Homo sapiens: one gene and its partner. The protein of the gene in region 1 purifies or fractionates together with the protein of each later gene. This does not show direct contact. Each region holds a gene or a part of one and is shown in the gene's direction. Other genes may lie near its edges.

Region 1 (3,500 bases):
CCTAAGTAGAGATCTAAGTTTCTGATAAATGTTTTTAATTTTTTTCTTATTCCAAGATGTTTCTAATTAACACCTGGCAGTTTTTATTTTATGATCTGGCTACCTAATGGCATCAGGTACATTGCAATAAGATAAAAGGTTCAAACAAAACATAAACAGAATTGAACATTTCTTAAACTTAGTACTTGTCACATTTAAATGCATCATATTAACAGAAGTATTGAATTATAATAGAAAAAGTAATGTAAGAAAGGTATTCTTTAAATAAGAATGTTTATTCATTGTCTTTTTCTATTCCTAGGAATCTGTCCTATTGGGAAAGTCACTGCGACATGATTAATGGTACAGGTAAGAATATTTGTTTTGTGGTCATCACAGTTAATCCACCTCCCTTTCCCACAAATCCACCGTTGTACTGACAGTGTTCTGAAAGTTGAGGGTGTGTGTTTACTTGCCTTTATATCCCCACAACAAAATTCAGAGTCACTATTTGTATATAGGCTAAAGGTCTGTTCAATGTGATGGGATTTGTAAAGATTAATCATAAAAAATTAGCCCTTACTGCATGATTCAGAGAAATGTTTGCTTTGTAAAAACTTTACTGCCATCCTGGCAACAGAAGTAAATGGTAAAAAACAAACAACAACACAAAACACTTTAGTTACATTTCAAATATTTTATAAATAGTATACAGATAAGTTAGAATTGAAAGAATTAAAAAAAGCTAATTACAAAATAGAAAACATATCTAAGCAAGGCTTATAGCTGAGATAGAATAAAGTTGCAAGACAGAACCATCCATTTTTGGATAAGGTGGTCAGAATGAGAGAGAAAACAATAACAAAGTCAGATGTCTTCTTAACTGTGAAAAATATATGTAAAAAATGAGCATTCATAAACTTAGATTTAAGGTATGGTTAGATCAGGCTTATTCTCCTTCAGGAAAAGCAAAGTACAGATATGCCTATTAGTTTAAGAATTAAGATTTTTAAAAAGCAATGGGAGGCTGGTCACAGTGGCTCATGTCTATAATCCCAGCACTTTGGGAGACCAAGGCAGGTAGACTACTTGTGCCCCGGAGGTTGAGACCAGCCTGGGCAACATAGCAAAATCCCATCTCTACAAAAAAAATACAAATATTAGCTGGGTGTGCTGGCACACGCTTTTAGTTCCGGCTACTTGGGAGGCTGAGGCAGGAGGATCACTTGATTCCAGGAGGTGGAGGCTGCAGTGAGCTATAATTGTGCCTCTGCACTCTAGCCTGGGCAATAGTGTGAGACCCTGTCTCAAAAAAAAAAAAAAAAAAAAAAGTGGTGGGAATCGAATACCATGAAGTAATTAATATCCAGAGGCAAGCTTTCAACTACTAGGAAACAAAAGCATGAAGTTTAGAAAATTAGGGAATATCCCATAGGAAAATGATATAACAAAGATAAAGACACTTAAGTAAAAATGAAGTACAGAGAATGTTTACTTTGCCAAAGGTATGATTATTGACTTCGTATGCGTACTTGATTCTATCATTGCCTTGTAGGAAATGATAAACAAAAAAAGCAAACAAAAAAAACAGCAAAAACACTGTTGGATTTGCAGGGGTTTTCTTTTGTTTTTTTTTTTTTTTTTTTTTGAGACATAGTCTGGCTCTGTTGCCAGGCTGGAGTGCAGTGGTGCGATCTCGGCTCACTGCAACCTCTGCCTCCTGGGGTTCAAGTGATTCTCCTACCTCAATCTCATGAGTAGTTGGGACTACAGGCATGTGCCACCACACCCAGCTAATTTTTGTATTTTTAGTAGAGACGGTTTCACCATGTTGGCCAGGATGGTCTTGATCTCTTGACCTTGTGATCCGCCCCCCTCGGCCTCCCAAAGTGCTGGGATTACAGGCTTGAGCCACCACACCTGGCCAAGGCTTTGCAGGGTTTTGAGCCATAGGAGTGGGCAAATAAGCTATTTTCTAAGTAAAGCATTTCTGGAAATAAATTTTCAAGTCCTCAATACTACCAATGCTAGTAGTTGTATAAGCGGAATACTTAGTCCTTAGATGCAGAGATAAATATACTGTGTTAATCCTAGTAAAGGATTCTTTAAGGAGAAAAATCTTTAAAAAGAAGATTCATTGACAATAATAGAAATGCATGAGCATCAGGCATGATGTTAAAAATATCTATGGGGAAAATAGGGCTGATACAAACTAGGAAAAGAGGGAATTTGGACAGAGCAGGGGATGATCCCTGTGAGAGAGATTCTTGCTTATGGCACTAGCGAAAAGAAAGTAATAAAACAGTAAGGTTCTAATGTGTTTTCATCGTAATTTAGAAGTGCATCCTCTTTACCTTCTTCAGTAAGTTTGAAAAGACTTAAAATGAAAGTATTGGTATACATTTAGAATGTTTCTTTTGGGAGGACAGAAAAAAAGCTCTGCAAATATCAACTATGTTGCAGTCATTGTCCATGGTAGTTGCTGGGTATAATTAGGACATAATCTTCAATGATATTTTAGATAATGATCTTAAAAGCTTTTCAATGCATTTTTCTTTAATTATTAAGGAAATGGAAAAGCAGTTGTTGTCAATGTCCATATGGGGGCTTATATTTTACTTGTCACAAGAGTGTAAACTAATGAAAACAAGGTCACAAGGTTGACACACTTGCCAGAGAAAGAACCTACAATGCATAATCAAAGATGAGACTTACCATTTAAAACTCATTCAATGACGGCTCGTATTAGTGATATTCATGTGAGAAGTACATGGAGGAGTTAACTATTTCTTCATATATCCAATGTTTGCCATGGATCATAGCTGTAGCAAAAAGTAAATTCAATAAATGACTTTTTTATACACTTTCAAAGCATTTGAAGTTCTGTTTAGTGAGAGAACTTTAGTAAATATTTTTAGAAGTAGTAATCAGCCATTAGGACAAATGAGAAAAAAAATCACTACAAATAAATGTGGACATGGCAGGAGATCCAAATGAACTTCACTGGAAGAAAAGTGCCACTCTACTGGTGGGGTAGGGCATTTCAAAAAACAAACACAATGTTAGCCTTAACATTTCATGTTTAAGTTTCTTTTATTTTGTACCATTAAATATGTATAGTATGTAGATTTGTTGTTGACAATAGCAGCCGCCAGCCATATGTAACTGTTAAGGACTCAAAATCTGGCTAGTATGATTTGAAATGTGCTGTAAATATAAAATGCACAGTAGATTTTGAGACTTTAAGAATTTAAAATATTTTATAATGGTTACATGTTAAAATATTTTGGATATTAATAAGTTAAATATAGTTTTGTTTTGTTTGAGACAAAGTTTTCCACTTGTCGCCCAGGCTGGAGTGCAATGGCATGATCTTGGCTCACTGCAGTATCCGCCTCCTGGGTGCAAGCAATTATCCTGCCTCAGGATAGCTGGGATTACGAGCGCCTATCTCAGGATAGCTGAGGCAGGCCTATCCTGCCTCAGGATAGCTGCCTCCCAAGTAGCTGGGATTACAAGCG
Region 2 (3,500 bases), on another chromosome or scaffold:
TCTATAGTGCCTTTAACTATTCAGTCACATTTTAAACTCCAGTTATGACTTTTGCAGAATAATATTGTGTCAGAGAGCCCCAAAACATGTCGGGTGTTCCTAAAGCTTTGGAGACTATAAAATTGAAGTAGATACCATAAACTTCATCCAGGTTTTCAGGCTGTATATTAAAGAAGTTTCGGACTCCAAAAGATTACTCAATGGTCAGCCAAGTTGGTCCGCCGAGTGACTGAGGTCAGGGTCTGAGCACCTTGGACTCTTTAATTTCTCTTAGGTAGTTAAGATTGAGTCATTCCCAGAGGTGGAAGGTATGTGATGATGACTGTGGGTATATCCAGCCTATGAATCATCACTCTTAGCTCTTCTGGGAAGAGATGGATCTATATATGATCACAGGGAAGAACCTAGAAGAAGGAGATCTATAAGAGATAGTCTCATGAAGTCATTTTGGATTTCTGCCAACCCTCATTTTCTTCTTTATGGGGTCTCTCTCTCTGACCACCACTGTCTTCCAGAAATGCTCCAGGCCCGCGGTCTGTTCTGTTCTGACCCTTACTAGGTTTGTTCTTGACTTTTCTCAGACTTGTCATGTTCCATCTCTTAAAATCATATTTTCTGAACTAGAGATCATCTAGTCCAACTGCCTCTTTTTACAGATGAAGAAACTGAAGCTGAAAGTTCAGCTTGAGCAGAATCTTAACAGAATGTGGATTTGAATCTCTGACCCATGCTCATGCCATTTTTAAATGGAAAAGCCAGAAATGTTCTTCAGACCTAGAGAAATCGGCAAGCATCTGAATTTTGGAAGTGTACTATATTGTGTTGATTTATCAAACTGCTTCCCATATGCATAGGTCAGGGCTATCTATTTAAATATTGGTGCCTGGACTCTTACTATTGACTCTATTCCAGCTGGCCTTGGAACAAGTTCTGGGTCCGTCCTTCTTTGCCTGCCTCCACCCCATTCCCTTCTGAAAAAGCCCAGTGAAGTGTGGCTGTAGCTAGCCAAGAATCAGAGCTGTATTCAGGATGTGTACCTAAGCACTTGCTTCCTTGCATTTATTCACTCGGAGTGCCATGTGGCCCAGGGCCATCTTCCAGGGATTGCTGGGTCACCTTGAATGCTAAGAGTAGAGAAAAAGCCAAAACGGGCAGCGAGACTTACAGGAAGTCTTAGGACTCTGCAAGAAAGCAGAAATAGGCAAGTTTAATTTTAACACAGGCTGGTGTGAGACCAAGTAATGACAGGGTTGGGGAAAAAAAGGGTCAAAGTATTTATATGGTATAAATAATTTGTTGGGGAAGTCAGGATAAATGCTTATATAAAAGGATTCCTTTATTATAAAGAAGTGGTTATTCTGTGTTCTCAGTTATATAGACTCTCTTAGCATAACAATATATTGAGATTTAATTTAAGCTTTCATAACCAAATAGTACCAGAATTATGGCGCATGGTTTCCTGAAGACCTCGGCTCAACATATTACTGTGGACAGTGAGGCCAGTGAATTATTTGGTATTTTCAAGAGGGACAGTGAGACAAAACAGAAAATACTGTTGTAAGCTTAGATGACAGGGTCAATTGTGCCTGAAACACTGATTTAGTGCTGAATCAGCCCATTTTAAGAATATAATCATAGCTTAAGAACCAGTTTAAAATTTCCCCATCCTACACTAAAGCAATGTCTTTAACTCCTTTGGATGTCTGTAGCACATTGTGTCTGACAATTCTGATGTTTTGTGCTAAACTGTGATCCACTATCTTTAGGACATGATCTAATCTCTCCCAACTGGATTGTAGGTTATGTGAGGGCAGGGGTCTTACATTCATTTCTTTGCCTGCTAGCACCTAGCATATGCCTTGCAAATACAATAGAGACTGATATTATACACTCAGTTTAACCTGTGACATCAACTCTTCCTGCTGAGGGTGGAGAGAGGGAGAAATCCCTTTCTTTAACCCTTTGCCCTTCCTTGCTCAGGCCTTGGTGTCTTCTGCCTCTGAGGAAACGGAATCTGTAAGCTTAGCAAAGAAACGCACAAGACGTTAATTCTTGGTTTTTGATTTTTCAAAGGCGGGGGGTTCCAGCTAAGGGATTTTCATGAGTGTTTGTAAATTTCACCTGGCTTTTGCCCTAAAGGCAGACTTTAGAACCTAACCCCAGAAATACAGGCTGACCTACACTGCAGTGGGTACTCGGGACTTGCTGAGGTGGTTGGTTGTTATGAGGCTGGACAGAGAAGGATGACTGTGGAATAGAGATCTTTCTGAAAGCAACTTGACAGGGGTGTGGGGGTCAAATGGAAGTGTGCAGTACACGTGTGAAGTCACTTGTGAATTGATAGCGGCAGGTTTATTTCTTCAAGGATAGTAAGGGAATCTTGGATATATTTAACTCTTTCGGTAGGATGGTGGGAAGGCTGCTTACCTGCTCCGGGGGTGAGCCTAGGAGCCATAGCATGGGATCTGGGGATCTGTGTAGCACCCCCGCTGGCTCCTGGGAGGATGGTAAAGATTACGTACTGCAGCAGTGGGAAGTGGACGTAGTCTCAGCCCCCGGTGCCCATCTTCCCTTTCTGGGCTTGGGTACAACTCTGGAATCAAATAACTTTATATCTGGAAGGAAGCTTAGGGGTTCTGAAACCTGGCTGGTCTTCAGGGTAACTACTTGGGCAACCTTTTATAAAAGTGTGATTCTCAGCCCAGCCTAGATCTGTTACGTCAGTTTCCATAAGTGTGCTCCAAGAAGCTGTTCTTAAAGTCTTCTTCGTTTGAGTCAGACTAGCTTTTCTCCTTTACACAGAAGGCAGAGTGTAATGTAGTGACTAAGAGCAGAGCCTAGAGCCAGGTAGGATCAAACCCTTTTCTGCCATTGACTAGCTATGATTTTGTGCAGGATTCCTAACCTTCCTAGGCCTTCCTGCCTTCAGCTGTGAAGCTAGTATCCTCGCACATTAGAATAGTCCTGGTCCAGAGTGAGCATTTTGTGTTTGTTAAATAGATGAGGAAACCAAGGCTGTAAGAGGTGCAGTGGTGGCGGCATGTCTAGCAAACTTGGTCTTCAATCTGCATCTTCCCTGCTTCCCGGCCTGTGCTGTGTATGTGCTTTCTCCTTTTAGGTTTGGTTTTCATCACGTTTAAAGGTTTGGTTTTCATCACATTCTCCCTTTCTTCCATTCCACTCTCCAGTTGAAAAGTGCATCTCAGAAGAGCCATGCCTTCTACTTAGCAGCCCTTCGTAGCTACTAAGCCATAGATAAATCCCAGTGAGGTCTCAGTGTTCAGAGATGAGTGGACAGATGGGTGCATAGACATGACGGGGCAGTGACTGTGAGCTGGATACCCATGGAGGGTGGGTGGTGCAGTTATAGGTTGGGCTTACTGCTAAGGAATACCACCTGTCTGGTTTCCAGGCCTTCTTAGACCTCTATGACCTTGAAAGCACCCCCACACCTCCATCCCTAGGAGGCTGGATAACTTGCACAACACCCAGGGCAGGTT

What was found. Proteins that work in one complex are often made in the same cells at the same time.
Region 2: the proteins of CD36 (region 1) and ITGA6 purify together in Homo sapiens (affinity purification with western blotting, with the first as the bait; one study listed by BioGRID). This does not show direct contact.

The regions. Positions count from the first base shown.
Region 1 is NC_000007.14:80,666,142-80,669,641, forward strand, and holds part of CD36 (platelet glycoprotein 4), read left to right. Parts: intron 1-301; coding exon 302-348; intron 349-3,500.
Region 2 is NC_000002.12:172,430,586-172,434,085, forward strand, and holds part of ITGA6 (integrin alpha-6 isoform b preproprotein), read left to right. Parts: intron 1-3,500. UniProt on the Homo sapiens protein: Integrin alpha-6/beta-1 (ITGA6:ITGB1) is a receptor for laminin on platelets. Integrin alpha-6/beta-1 (ITGA6:ITGB1) is present in oocytes and is involved in sperm-egg fusion.